Regions from separate parts of the Homo sapiens genome. Here region 2 is linked to region 1. The links come from fine-mapping of genetic effects on gene expression. A gene starts in region 1. The other region holds a variant in brackets. All regions are shown on one strand. Distances are from middle to middle. Region 1 holds the start of SMAD1 (SMAD family member 1). Region 2 holds the start of SMAD1-AS2 (SMAD1 antisense RNA 2).

Evidence for each region. PIP is the estimated chance that this variant, and not a neighbour inherited with it, causes the effect.
Region 2: its variant is fine-mapped to the expression of SMAD1 in whole blood (INTERVAL, PIP 0.93).

The regions. Positions count from the first base shown.
Region 1 is chr4:145,477,150-145,486,780 of GRCh38, reverse strand. It overlaps SMAD1 (SMAD family member 1), which reads right to left and starts at 4,928. Exons shown (of 7, transcript NM_005900.3): 1 at 4,743-4,928. RefSeq lists silencers at 4,110-4,209, 4,300-4,359, 4,700-4,859, 5,030-5,159.
Region 2 is chr4:145,501,567-145,511,197 of GRCh38, reverse strand. The region is part of intron 1 of SMAD1 (SMAD family member 1); the gene reads right to left. It overlaps SMAD1-AS2 (SMAD1 antisense RNA 2), which reads left to right and starts at 8,218. Exons shown (of 2, transcript NR_108077.1): 1 at 8,218-8,322. RefSeq lists a silencer at 3,324-3,524. The variant A/G (reference allele first, on the strand shown) is at 3,517.

The DNA of each region.
Region 1 (9,631 bases):
TGTTCACCTTGATATGAACCAACCAGATTAGAAAATCTTTAAAGCAACTTTTAATACTAAGTATCTCTATTCTCTGTAAAGGAAATTACAAATCTTAATGTTTATGAAAGCACTTGGCAGTCCCATGGACATATTTCACCCGAAAGACCATGAGATTTGGATAGTTAAGTGTACACATTAACTCACCATGACATATAAGCATTTTGGGATAGGAAGGTGGGAATAAGAAGATACAAGATCCATAGTTTCATCGATTCTTAAACAGCCCTGACCTTGTAAAACATTTACAAAAATAGATGTTGAATGTTTTTTTAAAAATCCCCAATGAATTTGCAATTACTATTCTTACAGTGTTTAACAGCTCAGGGAAGATAGACTAATTTTGGTAAGACAGACAAACTGAATTACTACAACTTTCCTCCTAACTTAATATCAGTTTGTGATTATGTAAGAAAATGCAAGAGGAAAGTGACAAGAATTATGCAGAAAAGCAGAGATAAAACTAATTTGGCTTTGAAATGCATTATTTTCATGCCAGATTTATTCTTCAAATTATGTGCTGCTTAGATGAGCATTATTTTTCCTTTCTTAAACACTTACAAAAGAACGACAGAAGATAGCCCAGAAAGGCACAATAGAAGGTAAATTTATTTAAAGACCTACAAAATACACAAGCCAAGTCATGTCTATACTGGCATAGTAAAGCACAGCAGAACAATGATGATTTGGGTCTTCTGAACGAAAGACCAAAAAACATAGTTAAGATGGAGTTTCTAGAGTTGGACTGCCTCGATCATATCCCAGGTAAGATTAGAAATCATAATCATTCACTGTACCTCCTGAAGCAAGATACTGAATCATTCTGTCCTCAGTTTCTTTACCTGTAAAATGTGACAACAATAGTACTTATGGAAGTTTTGAGGCTTAAATGAGATATGGGTATTATAAACAATGCCTGGCATACATACAGTAAAAATTCAGAAAAAAGGGTTAGCTACAATTATTTCTTCTCTCTAAGGCTCTAAACCAAATTAGAATCGATGACACTAATAATAAATAAGATCTACAGAAAAGTCAAACTCCTTTTATCCAGCAGCTTCAACTGTCCCTTCCAAATTGTGTTTTATTTTAAAAAGAACAGCTAGTTAGTGATAAAATTAGTTTATATATGTCTTTCCATCTTTGACTCCACAAATCATTAGTAGAGTTAACAAGTGAGAAGAGGTAAAGGTCCTGGGGCAGCAATGGCTAGCAGAACCTCCTGTGATGATGGAACTATTCTATATACACGCTGTCCAGTATGGCAGCCACTAACCACAAGCAGCTACTAAGCACTTGAAATGCGGCTACTGCTGAGAAAACGAATTTTTATTTAATTTTAATTTAAACTTAAATAGCTATAAGTAGCCGAGTGCAGTGGCTCACACCTGTAACCCCAACACTTTGGGAGGCCGAGGCGGGAGAACAGCTTGAGCCCAGGAGTTCAAGACCAGCCTGGGCAACATGACGAAACCCTGTCTCTACAAGAAATACAAAAACAAATTAGTCAGGCAGACATGGTGGCAGTGCCTGTAGTCCCAGCAACTTGGGAGGCTGAAGTGGGAGGACTGCCTGGGCCTGGGAGGTCGAGGCTGCAGTGAGCCATGATCGTGCCACTGCACTCCAGCCTGGGTAACACAGAGAGACCCTGTCTCAAAAAAATAGAATAATAAAATTTCAAAAAAAGCTACGTGTGACTATGGCTAGGATAGCAGAGCCCTAGATAATCCATAAGCTAAATAAGGATTGTCAGAAACTTAAGCAAAATAAGGATCTTCTTTTCCTGAACTGTTTATATGTTCAATTCAAATATCTTTGTTTCTGGTATAGGCCTGGTAAGTTTGACTAGTTAAAGAAATAACATGTCAGTAGATATCAATACAGTGAAAATTCAGGGGTAATAAAAGGATCAAAGTTAAGTATGTGGTCCACTGATATTTTATAAGGTCCCTAAGGCCAAGTTAAATTCAAACTCACATGAAGCATTCAGTACACATATCAGAGCTGCAAAGGTCCTTATCAGCATCCCTAAAGCATCTGTTTCTCCTCTACCAAATGAAAAGCTACTTATACAATTCAGATTGAATATCTCTGCATTTATCTTAAATTTTTCTACAGAAATTCATAGTTCTGTAAGCCTTTTCCCTCTTTCACACACACTGGTATCCCTGGCCATCTCAGCCTTTCCACTATAAACAAAACCCATGTACCACCCATATCTGAAGTATAACGCCAGACTCCTGCTTAGCTACCCCTGTAATATGGTTTAATTATGATGACTGAACTAATAGGCTGACATCATAGACTTTTACAGGCTGACCCCATGTCATCCTGATGTATCATTTTGCACCAGTTCAGTGCTGTAAATCAATTTAAGATCTCAAGCAGGTTGAAAAGGCTGGTAATGATGCTTTCTCTGCCGTCTCTGGAGACTCTACATTATACCCAACTTACATTATTTATAAAGCCTCAGTGATGCCTCCATTAGCCTTGTAAGACTACACAAATGAGATCTTTTATACACACACACTTGGCCTTGATTATGTAGGCTACTGCAGCTTAAACATGCTAGTCTAATTACTATACCCAAGCTACTTCTTTTTCCAATCTACTAGGTTATTAGATTTAATATTTAACCCAGAATTGCTAGAAATCAAAATTACAAAGTGAAATTTAGTTTTTAACTAATAAATGTAATAAACGTAGTTGAGAAAATGTGACAACTTCCTCTTAATGCCTTAATGAACTTAGTAAAAATAACATAAAATTCCAAGAAGTGTAAGAGGCCAATGTCTTTAATTGCCTAAAAATTGTCATTTCTCTAAAACACAAAGGTCATCAGCTCTTCAAGGATACGAAACCAAAGGATACTGCAAGAGGTAAAATGTATTTGGTTACATACCTATGGTTGTAGGGGTCAAAACTAAATCAAGGACAAATCCCTACCCTCAGAAGAAACTCGATCCTGCCTGGATCCTCTAGAGGCTCTGGCATCACCCACCTCCAGAAAAATCATCTCTCACGACCCTAGCTACACCTTCCTAAGAACTGCAGTATTACACCAATGATACACCACCTGCACAGAAATAGCAAATAATTGCAAATGGGAAAGAGAGTGGGAGAGGGCAGAACAAACACTTTAATCAGTACAGCATATTTAGATCTGGCACCTACATCAGAATAACACTGATGCAACAATATTTATACCAATTGAAAATGCTGGGGCAGTGAACACTTCTGTTCCGATTCTTTTTTAACACGGTCCACCTACCTTCAATACAATTTAAAGTAATTACAAACAATTTGAAAAATCAACATGGGCAGGGAACAGTTTTCTCATTGTGTTACTGAGGTGTGGGCAAGTTATCCACAACAGGCAATTAGACCCAGAGATGTTCTGAAATAGAGGCATTCTGAGATTTAGCGGCTGAGAGTTTCAGCAACAGGAAGAAATAACAGAAATCATGCAACTTCTGTATCATTCCACGTACTTTGAAACTTCAGATACAATGGAAAGAAAAGAGGGGGGAGGGCAGAGAAAAAGGACAGTTGTCTCAGCACTCACGAAAAGGATGCTTTCTCAGGAGATGGTTCTGAGACCGGCCTCAATTTTCAGAAGGAACGCGCCTTTACTGGTTATCTTGCACCGTGTATTTAAAAATTGCATGCTCTTCAAAATAAACAAAAGCTCAGCTACTGTAGCTGTGAGATCTGGCAGGCATTTGTTCCTCCTCCCCTCCTAAAGCACATCAAGAAAACGTTCTCCCTTTAAAGCCTTCATACAGTTTCAGCAACTAGAAAAACAAGCCCACATCTGTCTCTCACGCCCACCACCCCCACCTTCCTACAGAAACAACCCCGAGAAACACTAACAAAGACAGGGAGCAGAGTAAAGGAACAGTTGTTCAACCGCGAACTCACGAATACACATGCAGTGAGGCAATCGACTCCGGTAAAGGGAAAGGAACGAGACACCAGGAGACGCAGCGGGTGTAGGCGGAAGAGGGGGAAAAAATTACGCGCCGCCGCCAAACCTTTGAATAAATTAGAGGGGATCTCGGTGCGAACTTTCCTTGACCTCGACCCCAAAGAGGCTTGCTGGGGCCGAGAAGAAAACCCGTGCGGGATGTGGAGGGGCCCGGGGCGCCGGGGTCCCCCGCCCGCGAGACCCGCTCCACCAGGCGCCTTGGAGAGCAGCGCCAGCGGTCGTCCTCCAGCTCCCGCAGGGGTCGCCCCGCCGGCGCGGGGGACACAATGGGTCCGCGGGCCACGCGAACGGGCCTCGGCCCGGCGGCAGCACGGGAGAGATGTGAGGAGCGCGCGGAAGGGGAGCGCGGCCGGGGAGATCCCAGCGCGGTCAGGCCCGGGAGCCGAGGCTCGGGGGCCCGGGAACTGGGCTTCCCACAGCAGAAGACCCAACAAAGACACCAGGGGAGCCCGGCGGGCTGGGCGCGAGAAGACGTGGTAGCAGGTTCGCTCCTCCGAGCAGACGGGAGGCGCCATCATGGGGGGGGGGGGTCGCGGCCCGCCCCGCGCAGAAAGAGCCCCCTTCCCGCCGCTGCCCGCGCCCCCAGCCCAGCACGACCGCGGCGGCCCCACGCGTGCAGAGACGGCGGCGGCGGCGCTGGAAAGCCCGGGGCGCCGAGGGGAGGGCTGGGACGCGGCATGAAGGGAAAGTTCGGTTCGGGTCTGTTTCGTTTTACCGGGTTGGCGGCGCGCCCGTCCGTGTGGGAGCACGAGTGGCCGGGCGAGCGGGGTCTCGCGGCCCGGGTCCGGACGGCCGGGCGCTGCGCCACTCTCCGCTCCCCGAGCCTCGGCCCGGGTTGAGCCGCTCGGCCTCTCCTTTCTCCGCCCGCCCGCCTGCTTTCTCCTGGAGCCTGGATTGATCTGGTCGCGCTGGCGTCAGGGAGTCGGAGCTGCCCAGCCTCCACTCCTCAGCTGCCAATACCCGGCGCACTCGCCTGCCCGCCCGCCCGCTCACACGCTCACCCGCTCACCCGCGCGCCGCCGCCGCTGCCGCGCGACCAGGGATCCTCTCCAAATTCCCGGCCCGGCCGGCGTGAGCGCAGCGCGGCCGGGGCCGGAGGACGGCGCGGGGGAGCGGCCGGAGCCACCCCCTTCTACCGGCAGCCCCACGCCCCGTTTCTTCCTGGAGAAAAAACAGTGTGGCGGCGTTCAGGCTTTCCTAACCCTGCCTTTTTAGTCCCGGTGGAGCGGACTTAGTCCATTATCTGCAAGTGAATTTCGATGTTCCATATGTTTATTTTCTGAAATGTTCATTAACGCTTCCACCGCGCCCACTGAATCGTTCTATAAACGTGGAGTGCATGTTGACAGTTACCTTTCGAGACGCGCCCTTTTATGTCTATCTTTCGTTGCCCCTCACTCACTCTCCAATAATTTGCAGGCCCCAGAAGTTGTACGTACCCAGAATTGGATAGCCTAGTAAATACTGCACGTGGTTATACAAACCCTGAGTCAACAGATGCGTTTTGTGTCAACTCAGGATCCAGTGATTCGAGTAGGTAACCTTGTTGCTCCAAATAATGGCATGCCATAAGGAGATACTGCTTTAGAACTCCACATTTTTGGTCCAATTTCTACAGTCTTTTAGATGATGCCAACTCCCCCGCACTTAACTCTTACCTACCTGATCTGCATAGACATTGAAAATATCTTCTTGCAAGAGTCAACTTTTCTCTTGGCTAACTCTTGAAGCTGCATAAAATCTTGCATAATTACTATAATGTTGAGTTACGTTTAGAAAAAATGATTTTTTTTTGAGGAATAAATTTCACATGAAGCAAAAAAAAAAAAAAAAAAATCACTCCCAGCAATGTATATCAGAATATGTCTTCTAATTAAATTCCTTTTTCCCTTAACCTATTTGAGCACTTACTGGTCAATTCGTGGGCCTCATCTTATTTTCCCTAAAAGCAGCGTTTGACGCAGTTGATCATTCTCTGCTCCTTAGAACAACAGGAAAGTGAACCTTGTTAAATGCCACTCGGATCAGGCCACTCCTCTGTTGAAAACCCTCCCTTGATAAATAGTATAAAGTATCCCATACAAGAGAACATTATTCAGCCATAAAAAGGAATGAAGTACTGATACTGATGCATGCTACATGGATAACCTTTCAAAACGTGAAGGGAAAGAAGACAGACCACACATTGTATTCTTCCACATATGTGAAATGCTCAGAGTAGGCAAGGCTATGGAGACAGAAAGTAGATTGGTGGTTTGCATAGGGTTGGGGAAATGAGGAACCTGGGGAGTGACAGCTAAAGGTTATGGGGTGACAAAATTGTTCTAAAACTAGTTTCTGGTGATGGTTGCACAACTCTGTGCATATACCAAAAGCCATTAAATTGCACACTTTAAATGGGTCAATCATTTGGTATGTGAATTTTACCTCAAGCTATTAAAAAAAAAGCATGACAATGAAATGCAGTATATGACCTTGATTGGATCCTGAATGGGGAGGAGGAGCTATAAACTGTCATTTTAAAGTCGTTAATTTTTAAAAAAATCAAAAATGGCATTTATTTAATTTTGAGACGGAGTCTCGCTCGGTCGCCCAGGCTGGAGTGCAATGGCACGATCTCGGCTTACTGCAACCTCTGCCTCCCGGGTTCAAGCAATTCTCTTGCCTCAACCTCTCGAGTAGCTGGGACTACAGATACACACCACCACGCCCATCTAAGTAGAGACGGGGTTTCACCATTTTGGCCAGGCTGGTCTCAAACTCCTGGCCTCAAGTGATCCACCCGTCTCAGCCTCTCAAAGTTCTGGGATTACAGGCATGACCCACCGCGCCCAGCCTAGATGGCCTTTCTTAGTGCAGTCCTAGTAGTCTTAAATGATAACTATTAATATTATTATGTATGCAATAAAATTTGATTTTGCCCATTGTGCAAATTATTTCCTTAAATGATAATAAAAATTTGGATATTCTTTTTAAAAGGACATTGATGAGACCATTATAAAAACCTAAATATGGACTGTATATTAATATCATTTTATTAAATTTTTAAAAAATCCTCCCTTGGGTCCTCATTTCACTCAGAATAAAAGTTCCCATAATAAGCACAAGACTCTACATAATCTTTCCTTCCCCTCCTTTAGCACTCTGACCTGCACTTCTACTCTTCCTCTTGCTCACTTCCCCAAGTCACACTGGCATCCTCACTCTTCTGGAACAATCTGGGCACATTCTCACCTCAGTATCTATGTGCTAGCTGTTCCCTCCCTTTCTGAGTTCATTTTGTGTTGCTGTAATAGAATACCACTGATAGAGTTTGGCTATGTATCCCCACCCAAATCTCATCTTGAATTGTAGCTCCCATAACCTCCATGTGTCATAGAAGGGACCTGGTGGGAGGTAATCGAATCATGGGGGTGGGTTCTTCCCATGCTGTTCTCGTGATTGTGAATAAGTCTCATGAGAATCTGACGGTTTTATAAAGGGCAGTTTCCCTGCACACGCCCTCTTGCCTGCTGCCACGTAAGATGTGCCTTTGCTCCTCCTTCACCTTCTGCCATGATTGTGAGGCTTCCCCAGCCGTGTAAAACTGTGAGTCCATTAAACCTTTTTTTTTTGAGACAGAATCTCACTCTGTCACCCAGGCTGGAATGCAGTGATGCAACCTCAGCTCACTGCAACCTCTGCCTCCAGGGTTCAAGCAATTCTCCTGCCTTGGCCTCCCAAGTAGCTAGGACTACAGGCATGCACCACCACGCCTGGCTAATCTTTTTTTGTATTTTTTAGTAGAGACGGGGTTTTGTGGTGTTAGCCAGGCTGGTCTCAAACTCCTGAGCTCAGGTGATCCACCTGCCTTGGCCTCTCAAAGTGCTGGGATTACAGGCGTGAGCCACCGTACCCAGCCCTAAACCACGTTTTCTTTATAAATTACCCAGTCTTGGGTATTTCTTCATAGCAGTATGAAAATGGACCAATACAACCACCAGCTGGGCAGTTTATACACAATAAAAGTTAATTTAGCTCATGGTTCTGGGGGCTGAGAAATCCAAAATCAAGGGGCTGCATCTGGTGAGGGCCTTCTTCCTTCATCACAACATAGCAGAAGGCATCACATAGCAAGAGAGAGAACATGAGAGGAAGGGTAGAAAAGGGCCAAACTCATGCTTATATCAGCAATCCCCTCCTGAGATACCAAACCGCACTCCCATAATGCCATTAATCCATTCATGAGGACAGATCCCTGTTAAAAGAAAAACTTTAGGCAAATTAAATTTAACAGAGTTTAATTGAGCAAAGAGCAATTTGAGAACTGAGCAGCCCCCAGAACCAGAATAGTTTCAGAGCAACTCTGGGGCTGCCACAGGGTCAGATGATGTTTATGGGCAGAGAAAGAAAAGTGACAGAAAATGGAGTGAGGTACAGAAAAAACTGGATTGGTTAGAGCTAAATATTTGCTTTATTTTAACACAGTTTGAACAGTTGGCTGCCTGTGATTGACCAAAACTCTGTGATTGGTACAAGAGTTGGCTACAGTCTGTTTGCATATCCAGTTAGGTTACAGTTTGCTGTGTACAGAGAAACCTTTAGGCCTAACTTAAAATATGTATGGGCCGGGCGTGGTAGCTCACGCCTGTAATCCCAGCTACTCGGGAGACTGAGGCAGGAGAATCAGTTGAACCCGGCAAGCGGAGGTTGCGGTGAGCCAATATCATGCCATTGTACTCCAGCCTGGGCAACAAGAGCAAAACTCCGTCTCAAAAAAAAAAAAAAAAAAATATATATATATATATATATATGTGTGTGTATATATATGTATATACATATGTACATATGTATATATACGTATATATATATATATGGAGGCAGCTTTAGCCTAAACTTAATTTAACAGTCCTCATGACATAATCACCTCTTGAAGTTCTCACCTCTCAACACTGTTGCGCTGGGGATTAAGTTTACAATATATAAACTTTGGGGAATGCATTCAAACCATAGCACTCCCTGGACAGCTCTTCCCACAGATGTCCACATGGCTCACTCCTTCATCTCCCTCAAGTCTTCACTCAAATGTCTCCGTATTATTTAGCCAAAAGAGCAGGATTTTTGGTCTTCTGTGTTCATTGCTATAATCTCAGCACCTGAGCAGTGCCTGGTATTTAACAGGAGCATATTAAATACCTGTTGAATGAATGAGTAAGTGAAGCACTGTTCTAGCAGGGGATATGGTGGCAAGCAGAAAAAAATCCCTGCCCTCATTAAGGAAGACAGATAATAAATAAATACACGGCCAGACGTGGTGGCTCACACCTGTAATCCCAGCACTTTGGGAGACCGAGGTGGATGGATCACGAGGTCAGGAGTTCAAAACCAGTCTGGCCAGCATGGTGAAACTCCATCTCTACTAAAAATACAAAAAAAAAAAAAAATTAGCCGGGCATGGTGGCATGTGCCTGTAGTCCCCGCTACTTGGGAGGCTGAGGCAGGAGAATCACTTGAACCCGGGAGGCAGAGGTTGCAGTGAGCCGAGATCGTGCCGCTGCACTCCAGCCTGGGCGACAGAGCGAGACTCCATCTCAAAAAAAAAAATAAATAAATAAATAAATAAAT
Region 2 (9,631 bases), 24 kb before region 1:
CAAAGTATAAGCAATTACTTAAATATAAATGACTAAAATATGACAACTAAGAGAGTTGTGGGGAACATTATTTAACCATATTGTACTTAAAAGAGACACACATTAAATATAAGAACACAGTATTGAAAGCAAGAGAGTGGAAAAATATATACTATGCATATTCCACCCAAAAAGCTGGCATAGCTATCCATTCAGATAAAACAGACTTCAAAAGTAAGAGGTATCACCAGAGATTTTTAAAGACAAAAAAGAAAAAAAGGACATTTTATAGTGATGAGTTGAGCCACCATGTAGTTTTTAAATTCCAAATTTTATGTAAATAATAACAGTCTCAAATTCATAAAGCAAAAGACTAACAATTACAATGACAGGCAAACCCACAATCCTAGTGGGAGATTAACATAATAAATGATAAAACAAGCAAACAAAAATCAATAGATACAGAAAAAAATTGTTTAAAAACTTGATCCAATTCATATACATATTATCACAGCACTCAACAACTGTACAATTCATAACACTTTCAAATACGCAAGGAATACTTACTGAAATTGACCATATAATGAATAACAAAGCAAATCTCAATCTGTATCAAAATACTAAAATCATATAGAACATATTCTTTGATTTTAGTATAACTAAATCAATAAAAACATTGTTATTGAAAAGAACCAAACTTTAAAATAACCCAAAGGTCAAAGAAGAAATTATAGAGGAAATAGAAAATATTTTTAACTGAATGATTGTAAAAATATCACATCAAAAATGCAGGATGTGGCTCAAGGCACAGAGGGAAATTTATAGTCTTAAATGCATATATTAGAAAAGGAAAAAAGCTGAAAACTAACACTCTAATACCCGCCAAAGATTTTTTAAAAGGAAAAATAAACCCAAAGAAAGTAGAAGAAAATGAAAGCAGAAATTTAAAGCATACTAAAGAAAACCTATAAAATCAAAGTTGATTCTTTGAAAATACTAATAAAATTGGATAAATCCCTAGCAAAACTGATAAATAAAAAAGAGAAGGCACAAATTACCAATAAATGGATCAGAATGGGGAAATCGTTAGCCTCAGAAATTAAAAATTATAATTATTATAAATAGCTGTCATGGCAAACGGTGCATGTCTATAGCTACATTGTGATAATCTACACATCTGTCATCTTCACTACAGGAAACAATGTAGGACTCCAACTTATTATTTTCTTACCTTTGGAACTTGGCATAGTACCTGGCACATAGCTGATTCTCACTAAATGCCTGATGAATAATTTAGCTCCTTGAAGAACTTAGAAAGCCAAATACGGAGCGTCAACTCTATTTGGGAGGCCACAGGGTGTCCGCTGTTTTCCTTTTTAAAGAGTTCACCCAAATTTACTAGTTTTTTTGAAGTTGGTATTATTTTCATTTAACATTAAAGGAAAGAGAAAACAAAACTATGCTATTATCAAAAGTCACACTTGGTCAGAGTGTACCTATTGATATGATAATTTCCTTTTACTAAAAGGTTAGTTTTGCAAAAGAACAAGAACTTTTTTCTAGGCTTCTGGGAATAATTTATAGAGGGAGTGTATTTCTTCATATTCTATATGTCCATCTCTTCTTCAAAAACAGCTTTTTAACATTTTAAGCAATAATTTTTAAACAGAATGGCTAAGTTTGCATCAAAATAACTTGGGGCTATTTTAAAATATATAACAAATACATTTAAACAAATACCCCCAAAATCACTTGGGGGTATTTATTTAAGGCAAGTGTTGGGCAACGTATTATATAAGAACCACCATTTCAGATTTTTGTTTTAACTATTCAAATCGACATTCATTCAACAAAGCTGTATTAAGCACCTGCTAAGTATGCCTAGCACAGTGCTAGACACAGGAGACACAGAAGCAAACATGTCTAACATACTGGAGGAGCTCACAATCCATTGGGAAAGCCAGTGTGTAAACAACTAACTCCCATAAAGCAAATTGCTAACCTGCATGCTAATTCTAAAGGACTTTGCTGAGATGTTTTATTAGGTGACCTTCCAGGGACTCAGTCAGAAGAAATAATACGATTATACCATTGCCCATGGGCACAAGAATAACCGAAGAAGAGGCCCATGTGCTGTGCATTTACCTACTATTAACTTACTCTAATATCATGTGATAAAGGCTATAAAACAAGTATCAACAACACTCTGGTCTGAATATTTGTATCCCCTCCCTAAATTCACATGTTGAAATCCTAACCCCAAAGGTGACAGAATTAGAAGGTGAGTCCTTTGGGAGGTGATTAGGTCATGAGGACGGAGCTCCCATAAATGGAATTAGTGCCCTCATAAAAGAGATCCCAGAGAGATCTCTCCTCCCTTCCACCATATGAGGTTACAGAGAGAAGAGGCCATCCAGGTACCTTGATCTTGGATTTCCCAGTTACTGTAACTTTGAGAAATAAATTTCTGTTGTTTATAAGCCACTCAGTCTATATGGTATTTTGTTATAGCGGCCTACAAACTAAGACAATAATATATAAAAACGGAAAAGGAAAGAACAATTCCAGAGATTTCAGAACATTTTTTTCCAAGAGAAAACATCAGACTTAAAGGATAAGTAGAATTTTGCAAAACAATAGAGCAAACATTTTGTGTGTTCATTACTTGACAAACACTGTTCACTGCTGTTTATCTATTAACCAGTTTAATCTTAGCAACAATACCTTAGTATTTACTGTGAAGTAAATACTATCATTTTCTTTATTTTACATGTAAGGAAAATAAAATATAGAATAGTTGAGTATCTTGTCCAAAGTTATGTAGACAGCTATAAGTGGCAGAACCTGGATCTGAACCCATTTTGCCTGGCTCTAGAGCCAGAATTTTTAAACCACTTTTCCAAATGGCTTGTTCCAACAGACACATGATAGAAATGCTAGGGTTTAATCCGCTGGAGATGATGATACAAGCTGATATGAAGGAAGGGGCAAGACTGAAGAATCTTATCATATGGACAAGTGGAAGGTTTTAAATCTGAGAATTAGCATTATTAGATCTACATTTTAGAAAGACAACTAAGGTAATATCTTCAATACAGAAAGATTTCTTCATACTGGGAGCAAAAAAAAAAAAAAAAATCTAAACCAAGGGCATCCAAACATTATAGAAGCCAGTTAGGTGGTAAATGTCTTGAGGCCACTCACGAAAATTAAAGTGAAAGATCACAGCACTTTGCATATAAACATGCCCAGACAAAACAAAATGCAGGCTGATGACTAATTTTTACCTGAGTTAAGCATTTTTTAATATACAAGTCAAACAGGTAACCTACCTCATATAAGGAACTCAAATGAGTCCATGATACTATGGCCTTGGCAAGACAACTACTTTTTTTCTGCCCCTTTTTGTACTTCCTGCCTTAGTTTATGTCAAAAGCTAAGTGGCCTTATCAGTTTAAAGTGCAAAATAAAAACATGAGTCAGCAAACAGAGATTTCCTTCCCTCTTGTCCAAATATAAACATTTCACACTAACAAA[A/G]AAGTATTCATCTAGTAAAAAAAAAAAAACCCAGCAGCCTTAAAAATATTGAGATCTTTATTCCAGCAACTTTATCTTCAGAAATTTACTCTAAGGAAATATTCTGAACCAGAAAGGGAAAATTGTTTTTGCACAAAGATTTTCATCAGAGCATTATTTATAATAGGGAAAAAAAGAGAAACATCTAATAATTGAAAAATACCTAAGTAAACTGCATACATCCACTCAATGGAATATTATACAGACCTTAAAAATTATGTTCATAAAGACTACGTAATAATTTGGGGAAAACTGTACGCAGAACATAAAATGGTTGGTTATATGTACCATGAACAACTATGTAAATATATGAAAATATTAACCATGACTGGGTTTGGAAGATTAGTAATGTGTCTCTCTCCTCCTTTTCTAAACTTTTCAAACGTTCTTTAATGAAAAAATGTAACTTCTGATTTTTTATAAAAAGGTTTTCGAAGCAAATATTTGCTAATTACAAAAAAAAAAAACCCACAAAAATCAATTCATTATCTCAAGCCACATCTATACTCTACTTAGAAATCAGGTTGGATTTATAGTGTGATCTGGTTTGAGAAGCAAAAAAAATATAATGTAGTTTAAAGCAGTGTTCTGAACTCAGAACGTTTTCCTAAGGAGTCTCACCCATGGGAAGGATTTCTATCAGAACTGCCAGAAGTGAAATTAGAAAAATACTCTTATACTACTCGACACGGCTAATTAATTTTCCAACTTATGTGTTATTCCTTAATATTAAAAGAAAAAAATGTTAAAATACTCTTAACTGCTATGTAACTTGCTTTATATTTAAAGGAAGCCTAATCAGCCAATTGCAGAACAAATGGGCATTTTCTTCACCTTGGCCTCATCTAGTAAAGCAACAAGTAAATTATCCAACTCCTGTGAATATCAACAAAATACACTCTCTTCCATTTAATATGTTACAGATCCCAAATTCCCACAGAAAGTTTTTTTTTAATTACCCTAATTTGTATATGAAGATATAATTGTTTTTTAAAGGAAGGAGTAACCACCAAATGTTACAACCCCCTTTAATAAAAAGATTAGGAGACAAATAATGTTCAACCACTCTCTGTATCAGCTTCAGACTAGAGGCTGTTTTATAATTCTTGCACCAGTATGGAATTCAGCAGACAAAATAAATGCTCCCATTAAATATTGAGGGAATAATTGTATTATTCAATAAAATAAACAAAAAATACAGGCTACAAAAAGTGACTGGGGGAAAAAAATCCAAAAACTCTCCGTACTTTAAGAAAGGCAAATAACAGAAGATAAATGGTCTATTGTCAAATGAAGCAGGCAACTCTTTTCTCCCCCTACTTCTTGTTCTTTGGTTCATTACACTTTCTTAACTAATAGTAAAAAATCATGGCACAAAGATCAAAAGAATTAAGGAACTAAAAGTACAGGGTATTGATTAACTTCACTTTGAAAATGTTTAACAGCTGGATACTTTTTTTTTCTTTTTTTTAAAGACAACTTTATAAAAATTCTGTTTGATCGGCCAGGCTTGGTGGCTCACACCTGTAATCCCAGCACTTTGGGAGACCGAGGAGGGGGGATCACCAGTCAAGAGTTCAAGATCAGCCTGGCCAACATGGTGAAACCCTGTATCTACTAAAAATACAAAAATAAGCCGGGCATAGTGGTGTACACCTTTAGACCCAGCTACTTGGGAGGCTGAGGCAAGAGAATCACTTGAACAGGGAGGTGGAGGTTGCAGTAAGCCAAGATTGTGCCATTGCACTCCAGCCTGGGTGACAGATTGAGACTCCGCCTCAAAAAAAAAAAAATTGTTTGACCTTTTTTTTCCTTTTTGGAAACAAATATTTCTAAGTAACAAAACCACCTAAGTGCGTATTTCCAGACTTACATCGCCAGATATATTCTTAAACAGATAGACTGGTCTTGTGAATACACAGAAAAAGTAAGACTTGAGCTTCCAGAGTAGACCTATGGTGGGCTTCAGAGTGATTATAAGCAAACTGCATGAATTTTGTAGTTCAGCATTTTTTTTTTTTTTTTTGACAGAGTCTTGCTCTGTCGCCCAGGCTGCAGTGCAGTGGCGCGATCTCGGCTCACTGCAGCCTCCACCTCCTGGGTTCACACCATTCTCCTGCCTCAGCCTCCGGAGCAGCTAGGACTACAGGTGCCCACCACCACGCCCAGCTAATTTTTTATATTATTTTCCAGTATTTTTAATATATGAAACTATTTCACAATACACCTCATTAGATGCCATGGAGATGCAAGATATCTCAGAGACATGTTGTAGAAAGTGATCAATATTAACTGGCAATATTAATTAGTATTACAGAAATGTATGTGTCATCTATCCTAACATCCAATTTTGGATAGGATTCAAGGCCTGGTGAGATCAACTCTTGCCTTGTTTGAGATGCTTAAATTAAAACATCAAAAAAGGTCAAAGGGGAACATGCCAGGGGACTTGTAATGTAATTCTCATTACTATAAAACAAACTACTTTTTTCTAACCTGCTCCATTTCACTTAGGTACTCAAGTCAACTGTATAGTCCAAACAAAGATGGAATTGTCCAAATAGATCATGATTTCAAAGGATAATAAAGACACCTGAAAAATTCCTGACACTTATAGAAACCACAGACTCACAGAAGATTATACACTAAAGACGTAGGGTTAAAAATGCATAAAAACACAAAGGTTGGAAAAACCATATTATTTCAGCAATTTAAGGCCAATAAATATTTTAAAACAATAAAGAGCAATCCATCATTGCTTGCATCTTTCAAGCCATCTTGTAAGCAAAGAATTGCAATGAGATTTATTGGTAAAATATGAAAAATTCACAAAATGGAAAGGGGATCATAATCATTTGCCCTAAATAAAATCAGGCTGAATTAATCAGAAGTCCAGAAGAACTGGGAACTTACAAACTTTTGATAAAGCTGAAATAACTATTACTTAAATGTGGAACAGCAGACAACCCACATGAGACAATGGCCCAGCAAGAGGGCTGAGGCAGAAACTGCCATCCGCTCACATTTCCAAACAGAGAAATAGTACCCCTAAAAAACAGTACCCCTAAAAATGAAGACAGGTGGAGACAGAACTCTAGAACAAGTAGAACACAACGATAAGTAGCAGACAGTAGGAATTGTAAATGGTTCCTAACAAAAAGCATGAAAGATTATTGTACAGCTCCTTAAGGAAAATGATAAATATCTACCCTTAAGGTTAAGGCAGACAGGCAAAAGACAAGTTAAAATTTGCTATACAAGTCCAATGCCATTACAATGAATATAAAAACAGAAATGGATCTAGTTATTTCAGTTCCAGAAAATACCCTAAAGTAGCAATGTTCTTTGATCTGGTTCAACAAATAATGTTCAAATGCTTCTTTAACCCAGTTACTCCAGTTAGGAGCTAACCAGGTTTTCAGATACAGTAAAGTCCTTACGGGTTCTTGGAAACTGTGGCTCTAAGTGAAACGATGTAAAACAAAATTAATTTTAGCATCAGCTAATTTATATAAACAAGAGTTAAGTTCCTTCAGGACATTTCTGGTCACAAAAACATTACCAAACTTCTGAGACCCAAAACACTTCTAAAATTAACACTGAAATAAATGTGAGCCATATATACATTTAAGAAAGATGAACAGAAACAAGATAATTATTTACCCAATTATTCCAATTCAGGGTCGCAGTGGCCCGAGCCGATCCCAGCAGCTTAGGGCACAAGGTGGGAACCACCCCTGGACAGGACACCATTTCATGGCAGGGCGCACTCACACACACACCTACATGCACTGCAATGGGGACAATGTAGACATACTAATTCACCTAACGTGCACACCTTTGGGATATGGGAGGAAACTAGAGTAGCCAGAGAAAACCCAAGCAGACATGGGGAGAATGTGCAAACTCCACACAGACAGTGGCCTAGGCTGGGAATGTTTTTTCTCATCAACGTTATAAGGAAATGGCATTGAATGAAATGAGGTTGTCTGAGGACCTGCTGTATTTGTATTGGAGGAGGAAACAGGTGAAGTGCCTGCATTCCTTTTTCCTGTTTTAAAACAGCAGTTAGCCCTCAACTTTCAACATTTGTCTCAATCTCAAATGAGTCAAATTTAGCTAAATAAAACTCACCACTAAGCAAAATAAGGGAGGAAAAAACCTCTAGAACAGAAAGAAAAATGAAAATGGATAAAACCTTGCTCTTTACTGATGCTAACGTACTTCATAAAGTACAGCGCTTAACTTCATTGCTAAAAAGGCTATAATGAACTCTATTTCGCTTTAGTCCTTAGGGGAAAAATGTATTTAAACCAAATTCCTACACAAGAAAGCCATACGGAGACCCACAGAGAACACAGAACTCTGCTGCTCTCAGTTCACAGCAGCAGGAGAGTCCTACCATCACAAACACCACAAGTAAAGTTCCATCTTACTGAGCCTCTTACTATTCAGCCTTGATCTGGCTACTTCCAAACATGGGACTGATGATGCAGAATAGCTAGTTTGACATTTTTCCCACTGAAAATTTATTTTTGCCGGAGACTGATTTTCTAAATCTGGAGAAATTGGGGGTTGGAGATAGGAGAGAGGTTCAGTTCGTGAAATTCTATTTATAGTGATGCAATAATGCAGGTACTATTGCCTTTAAAGCGCAGACACTGTGCGTTTAAAGCGCAGACACTGACAGCAAGTCTTCCAGTCTCTCCAGTATAACTTAAGTGACATGCCAGCAAGAGATGCAATTTGGTCCCTCAACAGTGTTAAGTGAGTAGAAATCTTAGGAATCAAAAAGAAAAGGAATACCATGTAGACTGAATTCCAGCTTACTACTTACCACTTGTAAGTTCACTGAAGCTGTGAAATTTCAGCCAAACAATTTCAAAAGTAGCATCTCCTTGATGAAAAGGAAGCAAGGAACTTATGGATGTCAGAATGACAAGAGTCTCTAAGGATATAACTGTAGTTTATTTATTTTAGGTGTGCCAAGTGTGCTATTAACGTATCTTCATTATATCAGAAAATTCTTTAAAAAGAGTTCTTTCTGGTTCTGTTCTGCATACACAAATCCTTCCATCCTGACAAATCTAGGCTGCTAATAGAGTACCTGGTTAATTTTTCTTAATCACAGAGATTCCCTATAAAATAGCAGCTGTCACATCTGTTTTGTCTGATTAGATGATTACTTGAATAGTTAAGGCAATTGAAAGTTTTCTTATTGTCCCCAACTTCAACAAACAAAGTTGGCTTTTCTATATCTTCTTGCCATTTCCTCTAAAAGTTGTACAACATTCCTTAATCCCATTGAACCCCCATTCCCAAATTCATGCTTGTAATGGCATACTGTCCTTCAGGACACGGTAGCCTTTCAAGATGTCCAGCTCCCCATAAGCTCATCCTGATAAAGGCCATTCACATTCATGTCAACTCAAACACTGTAAAGACTCCTGGCCTACAAATGCTCACTCCTCAAACACAGGAAAGATTGAAGACCACAGACATTTTAAGATTTAATTTTATTGACTATCCCAGGAGAAAGTCTATGGTAGTTGTCTCAGAAAAAACTATTCTCTTTGAGTCAGTTATCCTAAAATAGCAATTTTAGACTACAAAGAATGCTAAATGTGGTAGATTTCCGTAAGTGGCTAGTTATGAATGATTCGTCAGTAGCTAATAAACGAAATTGTTTGAGTTACCAACTTATACAAGCATTATACTGGTTGTTTTTACAAACATTATTACATTGACTCCTCACACCAATGCTTCAAGGTAGAAATCATTATCTCAATTTTAGTAATAAACTTGAGGCTCAGAGGTTAAAGTAACTTTCTCCAGACCATATTCTGGTAAGTAGTATATCTATATTTTAAACCAGTACTGACTAATACTGAAGTCCCTCAGTCAAGTTTAAAAAAAAAAAAGGTAATCCAAATATCAAATTCACAGATGAAAATGGAATCAACTACAGGAGGAAAAAACTATCCCTTTAAAAAAAAAAAAAGAAACAAAAATCCTGCTGTATTTCATGTTTTGGAACATATTTCTCTCGCTCCACTGATCTCACAGGTGCTGTTTA